Linked DNA regions of Homo sapiens. The protein of the gene in region 2 purifies or fractionates together with the protein of the main gene of each other region. This does not show direct contact. Each region holds a gene or a part of one and is shown on either strand. Other genes may lie near its edges.

Region 1 (3,500 bases), on a different chromosome or scaffold from region 2:
GGGGGAAGTCACTTATAATGTTACTCCTGATAGCTGTTAATATTGGGATATTTCTATTTATTTTTTTCTAAGCATCCTTTTTTTCTTTGAGATCTTATTATATATTTTCTCTTTTGTTTAAATATAACAAAGATTTTCCAATGCTGATATAAATGTTTTGTAAATAATTAGGATGGATCCATAATATTTCATCACTTGATTACCATAAATAACAATTCTTATTTCCCATTAATGGTAACTATTTAATGGTTAGAGCTTCATATACAGTTTAGGATGTTTGTAAAGCAGTTTACTATTTTTGTTCTTCTGAAGAGCCCAAGAGTGTTTTCCGTACTGGGTGGATTAGTACTAGTTCTATCTGGAAAAAGCCCGGGTTGGAAGAAGCTGTGGAGAGTGCGTGTGCAATGCGAGACTCATTTCTTGGAAGCATCCCTGGCAAAAATGCAGCTGAGTACAAGGTTATCACTGTGATAGAACCTGGACTGCTTTTTGAGATAATAGAGGTATGCAGCAATATGTACCTTTTGAAATGGTGTTAGTATCATAGAGCTTTGCCTGAAATTTGCTTTTAAAATGTGTCTAAATTAATCAAATAACATTGGGTTATGTGTAACTTTACTATGCAATTATTCTATTATGTTCCTTTTCACATACTTTTTCACTTTTAAATATCTTTTAATAAATTAAGCAAAGTCATGCACATTTAAAAAAAAGTGTCTAAATTAAAAAAAAATTAATTTAGAAATTAGGGTTTCCGTCTTCTAATCCTGATATCATCACTGATTCTTTTGTTTCCTATTTCACCATATTCTTTTCCATGTCTTGTAAAACGTGTTCTGTGCATGTAACACATACATATTACTGTGTAGGGATAGGGAAGGAATAGATAAAGTTCTGTTTCAAACAAAAGGCCTCAGGACTATTTAGAAGACAGGGGACATATAAATTGATCGCGATCGTCTTTGAATGTATAAAAAATGGGAGTTTTGTATTAAGGGTCAGGTTTCCTGAGAATTTCATCCATCTGGACCAGATTCAAAACAAACCCAAAAAGAGTTTCCATTTTTATTTTGTGAAATCTGGAGAAAATTCATTTTCTCCAGCAAGTTACCACATATATTTCAAAGCATTTATCCTATTTTTATTTCTAGAAGGGCCATCAGAATTTTATTCTTGGGATTTTTAGGGGTTGATTGGCCAGATTGGCTTATAGCTTAACATAATGATGTGATTTTTCTCCAGTCTAAATGCTTAAGAAGAGAATTGGCAATGAATATAATTTTTTTTCCACGGGGCATTTTATTTGTAAATATATGTATTACATCCCTAGAAAAAGAATCCCAGGATTTTCCCTCCTGTGTGTTTTCATCTTGCTTCTTCATGGTCCATGATGCCAGCTGAGGTTGTCAGTACAATGAAACCAAACTGGCGGGATGGAAGCAGATTATTTTGCCATTTTTCTAGATCTTTGCTTTGCACATCAAATCTGGGGCTGATGTCTCCACACTTGTTTAGCCTGCCTGTGAGGTTCACAACAATTTTCCCAGCTCTGTGACCATCAGTGATTTCAAATTTGCCAATGTAACCATGCTTCATCATCACGGTGAGAAACAGGATGATGACTTTGGAGCACGGCCTAATAAGCACCTGGCTTTTGCCTCTCTTTTTGGCATTGTTGATGCTCTTGAGAGCATCAGCCAGGACATTCATGCGCACCATTGTGGTGGTGCAGAAAGACGGTGGAAGAGCTATTTTTTAAAAGTTTTATTAGTGTCAGTTTTCTAAAAAACATCCATCTTATTTTGTATGGTAAGCTCAATTTAAATTTTTAATGATGTAATTAGCAAGATTAAGATTTGAGCTTGAAATAGCTAGTAGGTATAATAGATGAGATTTTCCCATTTTAAAATTTAAAACTTGGGAAGCTGTTCATTTTACAAGTGAGGAAGTGAGGACTGCTGAAGCTGTGACCTAGACAGGGTAACACAGCCTAGTCCTGGCCTTTTTTCCTACATACTGTGTTTCCTTTGTCTTCAGTCTTTCTAAGTAATGAACTGAAAAGAAGAACAGCTTGTTTGGATCAATTTTATTGGAAAAAATACTTTGGGATTTTCAAAAACATGAATGTATTTTCCTTAGGAATCATACCAAGTAGCTGTAAGATGGAGTCCTGGTTCTATCCATTACTAATTGCATAAACTTGTTAAAACCAAATTAATCTCTTTGAGTCTCTTATTTCTCATGGGCTTTAATTTTTAAAGGAATGTCTATGTTGGTTAGCTTACAAACTCACTTTGAAGATCAAAATTACAGAGAAAAATGTGTTCATCAGACAAATTCAGTCTACTTCATAAGTGTTCTGCGTATTGTTCAGATTGCCACTATCAGTATACATTACTAAAAGCTGGTACCTGTTGAGATAGTATTTTAGCCCCTCACCCAATGATACATGAAAAAAAAAAAAAAAGGCTTTGAGGCTGACAGACCTGGGCTTGACCTGCAGTTCCACCACGTATGGGTTGAGAATCTTGGGCAAGTTAACCTCTCTTTGCTTGTTTCTTCATTTGTAAAGTGAGGATAATAAACACCATATAGGTTTTTTTTGTGTGTATGTATGTGACAATTAGAAGTAAGAGACATCTTAGGATCTAGCAAAGTGAAGTGCCTGGCATTCTCAATAAATACTGTTGATGGAAATATTTAGTTAAAACCTTTTATGCTAATTAGGATTGATACATTTAGTGATGTTTGCTCAGGATGCAATGGTATACCAGAAGGTTCCTCTCTAAACGTGAGATTTTATAGTGTTTCTTTTTATAACCTCAGTTTATGGTACAAATTTAACATAAACTGTAACTTTCACATGCTTCCTTCCAGATGCTGCAGTCTGAAGAGACTTCCAGCACCTCTCAGTTGAATGAATTAATGATGGCTTCTGAGTCAACTTTACTGGCTCAGGAACCACGAGAGATGACTGCAGATGTAATCGAGCTTAAAGGGAAATTCCTCATCAACTTAGAAGGTAAGAAGGAGATGAAAGTAACAAGTAACATCTGGAGAATTGAATAATTATAGGTCATCTCCAACTTTCCAGTGGACTGGGTTTATTCTAAAGGTAGATATATACTTGGAATACATCTTTCTATGGAAATAATAAAAACAATTGCCAAGTTTCTAAGCCCGCTCTTAAAACTATCTTACCTGATGATCTTGGGAACTGAGGGCTAGGGACAGAAGAGGGAGAGAGATTTTCTTTCTGTCCTTTGAATAAATAATGGTCACTGTATATGAAGTTTATGTTAGGCTGACTTGCTCCCATTCCTCTTTTGTGTCCCCCTGCTTTGATACTTAGTACCCCAGTACTGGCCCAGTCCTGCCCACTGTTCCCCAGTATTGATTCTAAAATTTCCTATTATGTATACCCCGGATTAAAATATTTAGCCATTCTTGTGAGGGGTTAAGGAGGAAGTTTTATTGAGCTCATTCTAACAATGGTATCT
Region 2 (3,500 bases):
TTTAATTACAGAAAAGGCAACAATTTCTAAATTGGTGGTATACATTTCTTTACAATTTTTTAATGTAAGGCCATTTATTAAAATAGACAAACTAGAAGATGAAAACGAAGGCAACAGAAAAATTCAACTTTTCACAACCAAAAGAATTAGCACAACCTTAGAAATAATTTAGAAAAAAGTGTTGTTAAAAGATATGTTGCAGATCTCCGTTCCATTACCCAAGATTATGTCAATTCACGATTCTAAATAAATCTTTTTAAAGTAAGAGATTAAAAACTCATCTTCAGTGTATATGTAAATTCTGTGTTTTATCACACAGGTATGTTTATTCAACACTGTCTTTTGAAAATGGACCATTTAAAAAGACATAGCAATTTCCATTCTGTTAAGTTTCATTCAACTTTACTTAGGGTTGAATACACATGAAATGTGCTTTTAATGCATAAAAATCACAGTGGATAGCAGCAAAGGACTGGGCGGGGGGGGCATTGAGGAGAATTTGATAATTCACATTGTGATTATTCTGCACATTGATGAAACATAATTCACACCTCTAAAACCTCAAGACTTCCCTTTTTTAAAGAACCAAAATAAACCCAAGACACCTTGCTGACACTTCCCCACCCCTAAACAAACTGATGACTCTTTTACACATAAAACTGAAATAGTTATGGCAGCAAAAGATTTTGATGGCAATGAAAGTTTGTAAACTGTATTTCAATCTCTTGTTCTTATTCCCAAAGTGCAAGATGCAGGGTTCTCAATCTTTCAGTAGTGCTTCTCCTGTAAATAATCCTTCATTTTGTTTGGCAAAGGCAGTTTCTGAATTAAGTCTATTCTGGTATACTGACGTATAACAAAACGACACAGGTACTGCAACGAGCGCACCTGCATGAACCGGGACACTGGGTTGGTCAGTCTGACGGGGTAAGTTGCAGATCCAGGCAGCCGAGACCTTGAATAACAAAAAGCTCCATTTTCAGAGTCCCTGATTGAATGCTCAATTAGATCAACTATGGACGTATGTCCTTCCACATCTGGCTGTTCATAAAAGCTAAACCTACCATTTGAGTGCTCAATTCTAGTGTGAAGTGTTTTACCATGGGAGCGAAAGCTCAAGCTTAAAAGGTAACGGTCGTCAGAACTGTCCCGAACAAGAAAAGAACCATCTGGCACGTTTGCTAGCTTCCCTTCTGCCTCCCAACGTGTGATTGGTCCCCAGTACCATCCTTGCTTTGCAAGTTTTTTCAGCTCCTCTGTAAGGCTTGTCACAACCATGGGACCACTACTTTGCACTGAGTCATAAACTCTTGCAACCCCAGGAGCAGAGTTCGGATCAAAATTCAAATGACAGCGCATACTTTCAGCCACGTGGGCTTCTGTGCCAGTGAGTCCACTGAAGTTCCTTTGGATTTGATTATTCTGCATTGGAGGTAGCAATGGTGAGAGTGGAGGGACATCATCGTGACCCGCTCTCGGGCTCTGCAACATGACTCCCGTGGTGCCAATCAACAAGCCATTCACGGACTGATCCACGAAGATCTCTGGGGCGACAACTAGGTCCTGGTCTACCTGACTCTCATCCTCGGGGAAAGCGCGCCCTCCCACTTGAGGAGGAACCGCAGAGACTTCCATGGGAGAAGAGCTGTCCAGACAATAGCTCCGTGATCCTTCCAAAGGATACATCCCCTCATCTAAAGGCACAGTATACTGAATGTAGTCCTGAGGCATAAGTCCAATAACGACAGGCACATGTTCATCCAGGTGAAGATGCAGGTCTCCATTATGAGAAGCCGAGCTCTTCAGTGAATTGGCTTGCTCCTGGCACGTGGTCTCAGACTGGAGGTCGTGGAAATCCTTCCGGACGCCATTCAGGGCTGGACTCGGGCTGGAAGAGTGAACCAAGGCCTTGACTCTCACCTCCATCTTGATGCAGGTCTCCTCGGAGTTTGTGGGCCGCAGAGGCCACGGCGCGGGACTGTAGTGATGGCTGCGGAGCGACGTGGACCTTATCGGCCTCTGAGCTCTCACGTCTTTAAAGACTATGGGTGCTGAGGAGGAGGAGAAGGTGTCCTCGTCGGCAGAGCTCCCAGAGGGTGTGCCCGCCTTGCCTTTTGACTTCTGTTTTGCAGAAAGCCGCCTTTTTAGCGTACCCATCAGGCTCTCGCTTTTTGATCTGTTTTTTCCGCCTTTTTCATCTTCACCGTTGATATCGCAGCTGGCCATATCTTTACCATAGCAGCTACCAAATAAGGAATCATCTTTTCCAAAGTCACTGGCTAGCGATGGTTGTTGTACTACCATGAAATCAGTTTCTTCTTTACTTTTATTCAAGTTAAAAGATTTCCGTAAGGTTTTAAGACTAATTTTCTTCATTATGACTAGTTACCTAATCCAAGGGATCAATATTTCTATCTGGAATATTATCCCCAAACATCTGGAGAGGCTGCAAGGCTGCATCTATGTATTTTTCCTGCTTCATTTAACCTTTGGAGCCATTTTCTAAAAAATAAAAATATAAAAAGAGTCATATTAAAAAATATTTCCACAAAAGTTTTGTTTTAGTCAGTTTTAATCCTTTAACTTCTGAACGAGAACACCCCAGTCTTTTCTTAATGTCAGCTCTGTTAGGACCGGGCTTTCTTTCTATTGCACCCAGCAGAGCAGATCACTGCCTACTACACAATGAGCATTTGGCAAGTATTTGATGATGTTTACTTTATTATTATTATTATTATTATTTTGAGATGAGTCTCACTCTTTCGCCCAGGCTGGAGTGCAGTGGCGTGATCTCGGCTCACTGCAAGCTCTGCCTCCTGGGTTCACGCCATTCTCCTGCCTCAGCCTCCCAAGTAGCTGGGACTACAGACGCCCACCACCACACTCAGCTAAGTTTTTTGTATTTTAATAGAGACGGGGTTTCATCGTGTTAGCCAGGATGGTCTCGATCTCTTGACCTTATGATCCGCCCGCCTCGGCCTCCCAAAGTGCTGGGATTACAGGCTGAGCTACCATGCCCCGCCCGATGATGTTTATAAAGAACAAGCCTGCATCTACCTTTTGTTCTTTTGGCACCTTGCTTTTTGGTATAAACTCTAACGTGTGGGCCAGTGTCCACATCCTTCCCAGCTGGACTCTAGCTAGACCTGTGCACTCCTTCAGCACTGACTCCGACTGCTCCTCCGCTGCCTGCCATGTCCCAGCCTGTGTCCTGGCACGACAGTAAAGGCGTTCCATAGAACTGCAATAACAAGCCTAGTCAACTCAACAACTGATGCATATTTTAAATACTTAAGCTTGTGTCAAAATAAACAAAAAGAATTTCATTATCTGTAATAAACTATCTAGAGATGTTCCTCTATACTCGAGAATTCCTTGAGAACAAGAATCATTTACCTTCAAGTTCCCAATGCACAGAGGAGGAAGAAGCTCAATGCGCGCAGGTTGAAAAGCTTCATCTCTGAAGTACACCCATAAAAACCCATGTGTCTAGTTTTGAT
Region 3 (3,500 bases), on a different chromosome or scaffold from region 2:
CATGTTGAGGCTGGTCTTGAACTCCTGACCTCAGGTGATCCACCCACCTCAGCCTCCCAAAGTGCTGGGATTACAGGCGTGAGCCACTGCGCCCCGCTAGGAGCCAACATTTTAAAATAGGGAGATTTAATATAAAAATCCCTATTTTAGCTGGGCACAGTAGCTCACACCTGGAATCCTAGCGCTTTGGGAGGCCAAAGCAGGAAGATTGCTTAAGACTAGGAGTTTGAGACCAGCTTGGGCACCAAGACCCCATCTCTACAAAAAAAAAATTTGTTTAAATTAGCTGGGTATGGTAGCACGCACCTGTAGTCCCCAGGAGGGTACTCAGGAGGCTGAGGCAGGAGGGTCACTTGGAGATCACTTGAGCCGGGAGGTCAAGGCTGTTGTAAGCTAAGATCACATCAATGCACTCCAGCCTGGGCAACAGTGAGACCCTGTCTCAAAAAAAAAAAAAAAATATTCCCAAGTTCTTGCTTCTTTTGAACAACTGGCGTGTCAAGCAACTCCAGGCCCCCTTTACCCCAGGGCCACACTGGCTGGAGCCAACCAGCAGCTGGCCTGTTGAGAGGGGTAATCTCTGGTCCACCAGAGGCCCACTAGGCCCATAACACATTCTCTCCACAGTAGCCTGGCAGCTACCTGTCTTTAAAGCCAAGTGCCATCCTCTCTTCCCTTCTCCACAGATGAGGAGTCTGTGGTCAGAGGGAGATGTATTTTTCACAGATCACGCAACACACAGGAAGACACAGCGAGGGTTTTTAGATTCCGAGACCAGGGTGAAAAATCTGCTCTGATCCAACAAAGCACCCCCACTGTGCTTGGCAGCCGATCAGCCACTGTGGGACGATGACCCAAGAGTCCCGGACCTCACCCTGATGCCCCCATCTGGAGACTCTCGGGACACAGCAGGTGTGGCGTCTGGGATGTACTTTATTGGACAAGTGGTGGCCCAAGTCTTGGTCTGGAAGCACTGGGGCCCTGGACCCAGGCACTGAGTTTGAGGAGGCCCAGAGTTCAGGGCTGTTTGGAGCGAGGCCACAAGCGGCTGGTGAGGGAGCCAAGGAAGAGGTTCTGCTTGTTGGACTTGGAGAGCTCGGCCAGGCGCTGCTGCTCCTCCTGGGGTAGGGGGACAGTTGGAGGAGAGGGTCAGCGCAAGGTGGACAGAGCCTCCTCCCAGATGCCCAGGTCCCCAGGCCTCAGCCCAGGGACCACCTTTCCTTCTGACTTCTGCCAAGTCCAGACCCCTTTCCCCAAACCCTGGGGCCCCCAGCCCAGACACAAGGGACCCTAGACCCCAGTCCCCCCACCCCAGACACTAGGAAGAGCCAGCTCTGAGCCGCAGGAGCCTAGGCTTCAATGTTTGGGGGACGACAGACTCCAATACTAGGCACTCGAGGTATTCAGGCCTGAACTGCAGTAGGTTCTCAGGCCCCAGACTGTCATAATCTCCTTCCCCAGATCCCAGGGACCCCTCCCCTGAGCCTGAGATCCTATCGCAGACCCTGTTACCCCAAGGTGAATGCTGGTGAGATCCCAGGTCCAAACCCCATGGCCCTCCTCACCAGACTGCATCATCCTGCCCCTGGGCCCTCTGAGCCCCATGACCCCTCTCTGGATGCAGGGGTGGGGGGTTCCCTGGGGGGTCCCCAGGCCCAAATCTCTAGGGACTTCTCTGGGCACTCAGGGGCTCCCAACTCTAGGAACCTAACCTAGAATCTGGTGAACCTCAGCCTAGACCCCTGGGAATCTTACCCAGACGCAATCCATACTCTCAGTCCCACTTCCAAATTACCAGGGTCCCACCAAGACTATCACATCTCTCCCCACAGCCTTGGGCCACGTGCCCAGGGAGCCTCTTTCCAGGCCTGATCTAAAACCCACAATCCACCTCCACAAGGTGCCCCCAGACCTACTCAAGACCATCAAGGGCAACCCCTCTCCCAGCCTAATCTCAAATCCTCTCCTGTTTCCTGTTCTCAGAGCAGGCTGCAGAATCAATGCATCCCCTCATTCTGGCAGCCCTACAGGACAGGCTGTGTTATATCCCCCTGGTTACAGAGACTGAGGCAGAGAGGAGGTATCTGCTCAGGGTCACACAGCCAAACCAAGAGTGTGGAGATGGACTGCCCCAGGCTCCTCCTTCAGGAGCCTCAGAGCCGATCCTCCACTCTGGGCATCTGAGCACCAACCTGCTCTAGCCGGCTTTGCCGCTGTTTGAAAGCCGCCAGCGGGTCATCCTCCAGGGCATAGTGCTCCAGCACGGTTCGCACGTCCTCCACACCATTCAGTGCAATGGCTGTGGGCACAACAGGGGGTGGTCAGCCAGGCTTCTAAAGGCCAGAGGGAGGCAGGGCCCATGAGGGGAACGTCCCGCACTGGGGCACGGGGGCAGTCAGTGCTACCTGGAATGCTTCTGAACGCTCTGAAAGGGCTCCCCTGAACATCCCCAAGTATCCCCCAAACATTCCATGAACATCCTAAGAAGCTCCTAAAGACTCCAAGGTGCTCAGGCACCTCTTGCACCTCAGTCGCCCAGCCATGAATCATGCATTTATCCTTCCTCTTCAGAGTCAGGGGCTCTGGGGTCAGAGGCCAAGGGATCAGGGGTCAGCCTTACTCTTGAGGAAGGCAGACAGATCCAACAAGACCCGGTCATCAGAGTTGCCGTCCCAGGGCCGCAGGGCAACGCCGTTATAGGGCTGCAGGCGGAAGGCTTCCTTCTTGCAGTCCACAACTACTACTCGAGCTGGGTCCCGATTCAGACATGAAATATCCTGGAAGTGAGTGACAGATCAGGTCAACATCTGTGCCCAACTCTCCCCCCATCAAGAAGACCCAAAACACACAAAACATACATACATACACAGCATCACACATACTGGGATCACAATGGCAGGGCCTCTCAAAGACCGGCTTTGGATGATGGCATCGACCCCCACAGAGGGCCAGGCATGGTGGCTCACGCCTGTAATCCCAGCACTTTGGGAGGCCGAGGCGGGCGGATCACCTGAGGTCAGGAGTTCAAGACCAGCCTGGCTAAAATGGTGAAACCCCGTATCTACTAAATACAAAAAATGGCCGGGTGCGGTGGCTCACGACCGTACTCCCAGAATTTTGGGAGGCCAAGGTGGGCAGATTGCCTGAGCTCAGGAGTTCAAAACCAGCCTGGGCAACATGGCGAAACTCTGTCTCTACTAAAAATACAAAAAATTAGCTGGGTGTGGTGGTGTGTGCTTGTAGTCCCAGCTACTCGGGAGGCTGAGGAAAGAGAATCGCTTGAACCTGGGAGGGGGAGGTTGCAGTGAACCAAGATCGCGCCACTGCACTCCAGCCTAGGCAACAGAGCGAGACTCCGTCTCACAAAAAAAATAAATAAATAAAAATAAAAATAAAAATTAGCCAGGCATGGTGGTGTGTGCCTATAGGCCCAGCTACTCAGGAGGCTGAGGTGGGAAGATCGCTTGAGCCCAGAAGGTTGAGACTGCAGTGAGCCATGT
Region 4 (3,500 bases), on a different chromosome or scaffold from region 2:
TTCCTCTGTCAAAGCATTATGTTTTTGTTTCCTAACGTGATTGTTTTTGTTTTAATGTTAGATAGGAAAATAGAGATCAGAAATGAGTGAAAATTATTCTACAGCTTTACAATAAAAAAGGATCAGAATCATTCAGCTTGTTCTTAACACTTCACAGACAACATTCTACCATACAATTTACATTAAAATGCTAACCAAAGTCATTTCCTACAATGGGTTGTTTCACCACCATCAACACCACCACCACCACCACCACCACCCCCACCCCCGCACCCCCCCGCCGGCAATCCCCACCATTCCTTTCATGTATTTCAGCAAATTATGTGCAGGAATCACCCTCAAGATCAATTATTTTGCAAGAAACTGAATCAGTTTAAACTGCCGAAATTTCACTTCAGTATTAATCCAATGACACTAAAAATATCTTACATTTGTAAAGTGCTTTAACATTCCAAAGTGCTTCCACGTTGATTCTCTTATTTCAACCTAAGCGCCTGCCTCCCTGTGAGATAGAGCTTCCTTGCTAAAGTCACTCAATAAAGCTAGGAATTTCCTCAATAAACAATGCATTTACAGAATGTTAAATCTCCAAAATAGCTACAAAGTCATAAATCAGGAATTTATGCTAAAATAATGATCATTGTGTCTAGGTATTCCTTGGGAAGTCAGAATTTATTCAAGGAACAGTAAGATTTCACTATTTAAATCTTAAACTTCTTAAAATAAACCTCTATGAAAACTGGTCCTTTTGAAAGTACTACAGGGACACAGGCAACTGTGTATCATCTACATCAAAATTATAAATGGTGTCTTCAATAGTTAGACTCAAACAATAGATTGAGATCAATTTTCAGGTATATTCTACAGAATAAAGTAGATCTACTCTTGAAAATCTTATTATGGATTAAAGACTTGGAAATGAAATTATATATTTTAAACGTATGATTATGGTAGCAGTGGTGATCATGTGTGTTTGTGTGTGTGTGTATGTGTGTGTGTTGGGGAGGGAACTCACAGTTTAAAAGAGGTCTGAATTGAATCCTTTGGCAAGCCAAAGCATCCTTTTGTTGTTTTAATGATCACTCTTTAATGTGTCCACGCTGCAAATGTGAGTTTGTGTATGGCAAGTTTTCTATAGCAGGGAGAAAAAGGGGATGTGGGGGGGCTACACCTGCATTAAATAGGGAGCTTGTTAGGTGACTGTTGTGATCAGTGCCCGACTTGTTCTGCCTGATCAAGCACAGTGGGCAGAGATCCAATCACAAAAGCATTCCACAAAGCAAGCAAAGCAAAAATCTTCACTAAACTGACTACTGGAATGAAAACTGCTGGGGTCCATCCCTTCCCTTCACTGGGAAAGAAGCATATTCTACTTAAGAGGCAAGGTAGTTGAGACTATGGAGACATCATCCTCTGCAATCATCTCTTGAAAATGTTTCAAGACACACTGATGACAACATTCCACAATGTTGTACACAGTAGAATTACTCTAAGTCTTGTTTCCAAGTCTGACAGCTCCTACTCTTCCTTACTTCTTCCTTTGGAAAAGTAGCCCTTTAAAAACTTCCACCATTCCAGGGTAAGCTGCCCCTGGAGTCAGGTCTTCCTCCAGCCTTATCTTGCTTTCCTTGATTTCCCATAAGATATATGAATTAAATGTTTTAACTGCTTTTTAAACCTTTGAAATAATATTCATATCCATTCTCAAGTTGTCACCACACCCTCTTTTAGAAGGGTGGGGGGTTAAAAGAAGAAAATGAGGCACAGCAAATGTGACTTGCCTGTCATTACTAGTGACAGAGAAAAGGAACACTCAAGGTTTCTGGAATTTATCCTGTGTAAAAACAAAAAGAAAATCAACACACAAACACATTCCAGAGCCAAATACTGTCTTCTTTTAATCACCTCCTGTTTTGGATTATTTATGTTTTGTTCCCCCCAGACATTCACGTTAACAATTGAGATTTAACTTTCTTGGTAAATCACAGCAAACTAGCACAACAACGACTGCTCTTTAAAAAGTAACTTTCAGAGGAGAAAATTATCCTCCCTAAACATAAATAGTTGATTATTACTGCTTAATAGTCTGTGCTCTTATTAAATTCCTACACTTAAATATGGGCATTTGCAGAAAAGCAGCTTTTAATTGTTGATTTGAAAATTAGTTGGTGGAACCCAATTTACGATATCCTGCTTTACATTATCATTAAATGATGGGGAAGGATGTTTAAAAGTATCCTTATGCTTTTTATGTCTGCGTTTTAACTACTCCTAAAAAAGTAGAACCAGTGTTTAAATGATAATCAGTTCTGTCCAGATAAAGAAATTGATTAGATAAAAACAAATTTTTGCAAAGATCAAAAAGGCATTTGTGAATAATTAAAACTGAATTCTATACTCCATGTCGAATAGCACCAGTTAATGAAATAGTATCCCTAACACTGTAGACTGTAGCGCATCGAATCATTAGACAATGACCATTCACTTTAGGGAAATTAATTCTAAAATTACCGACCTCTTTTGGGAGAGTCGAACTGATTATCACGTCTGGCAAAATCCATTCTCACGTGAGTGTCGTCGTCGTTGTCAGAATCTTCTCTCTCCGGGGGTCTTGGCACCCGGCGACTGCGAGGTGGTGGTTCCGGAGCGGCAGCTGCAGCGGCAGCCCCGCCAGCCTGGTTATCACCTCTGGCAAGGTTTGCAGATGGGTTGTGGGCTCCAGGGTTCGAGCCACCGGCAACGTCTTGGGCTCCCCTTACTGCTTCGGCATCAGCAGCATTAGCAACAGGTTGAAACCAGCGGGCAGAGGCGGAGTCAAATCCAGCAGCTGCGGCTGCTGCGCCGATGCCCGGGGCTGCGGCGAGCGCGGAGGCCGCAGCTACAACTTGGCTGAGGGCTAAAGTCGGCTCTGCAGCCGAAGCGACAGCCGGGGCTGAGGATGGGGAAAGGTCTCTCTCGAGGCTGTCTGTTGGAAAAGCAGAGACAGCGGCTCTGGCTGCTGCAAAGAAACTTTGAGAACGGCTTTGTGGGCGTCTTCTCTCCTGCTCTTCTTCCTGCAGCAGCCTAGCTACAGGTGGTGGTTCAGAACATCGGCTGGGGGAGAGAGAAATATCCATACAGCACTCAGAAAATGGGTCGACCACATAGATTCGACCTGTTTCAGCATCATAGCGAATGGCACTGTCAGCAAGAGCCATGGCTGGTGTCATTGCTGAGTTGAAAATTACTTCAATGTAGTCACCCTCTTCCTCAATAGCATTGCTACCTGTAGCACTGAGGGGAAGGGGAGGAAGTGGCCACCTAGCACTGTCCAGAGATAAGGGGTTGGCACGTGGTATAGCTCTTAAAAGATCTGAGAGGTCGTTTGCTGGATTTGGAAATGGCACTCCAAACTCAACATTCACATAATTAGAAAAGGCTGACTGTCTGGGTTCAGCAATTATGCCCCACGAATCTGGTAGTCCTTGAGTAGAGGGAGCTGGTGTATTGCTCTCTCTTTT

The links.
Region 1: the proteins of SOCS6 (region 2) and IARS2 purify together in Homo sapiens (affinity purification with mass spectrometry, with the first as the bait; one large-scale study listed by BioGRID). This does not show direct contact.
Region 3: the proteins of SOCS6 (region 2) and TIMM50 purify together in Homo sapiens (affinity purification with mass spectrometry, with the first as the bait; one large-scale study listed by BioGRID). This does not show direct contact.
Region 4: the proteins of SOCS6 (region 2) and IRS4 purify together in Homo sapiens (affinity purification with mass spectrometry, with the first as the bait; 2 studies listed by BioGRID). This does not show direct contact.

The regions. Positions count from the first base shown.
Region 1 is NC_000001.11:220,142,632-220,146,131, forward strand, and holds part of IARS2 (isoleucine--tRNA ligase, mitochondrial precursor), read left to right. Parts: intron 1-312; coding exon 313-503; intron 504-1,286; exon of another isoform or gene 1,287-1,745; intron 1,746-2,877; coding exon 2,878-3,022; intron 3,023-3,500.
Region 2 is NC_000018.10:70,323,545-70,327,044, reverse strand, and holds part of SOCS6 (suppressor of cytokine signaling 6), read right to left. Parts: exon of another isoform or gene 3,397-3,500; intron 2,503-3,396; 5' UTR 2,377-2,502; coding exon 769-2,376; 3' UTR 1-768. UniProt on the Homo sapiens protein: SOCS family proteins form part of a classical negative feedback system that regulates cytokine signal transduction.
Region 3 is NC_000019.10:39,487,338-39,490,837, reverse strand, and holds part of TIMM50 (mitochondrial import inner membrane translocase subunit TIM50), read right to left. Parts: intron 2,778-3,500; coding exon 2,621-2,777; intron 2,300-2,620; coding exon 2,193-2,299; intron 1,120-2,192; coding exon 1,018-1,119; 3' UTR 1-1,017. UniProt on the Homo sapiens protein: Essential component of the TIM23 complex, a complex that mediates the translocation of transit peptide-containing proteins across the mitochondrial inner membrane. Has some phosphatase activity in vitro; however such activity may not be relevant in vivo.
Region 4 is NC_000023.11:108,730,064-108,733,563, forward strand, and holds part of IRS4 (insulin receptor substrate 4), read right to left. Parts: coding exon 2,516-3,500; coding exon of another isoform or gene 2,508-2,515; exon of another isoform or gene 2,434-2,507; intron 1,835-2,433; coding exon of another isoform or gene 1,830-1,834; exon of another isoform or gene 1-1,829. UniProt on the Homo sapiens protein: Acts as an interface between multiple growth factor receptors possessing tyrosine kinase activity, such as insulin receptor, IGF1R and FGFR1, and a complex network of intracellular signaling molecules containing SH2 domains.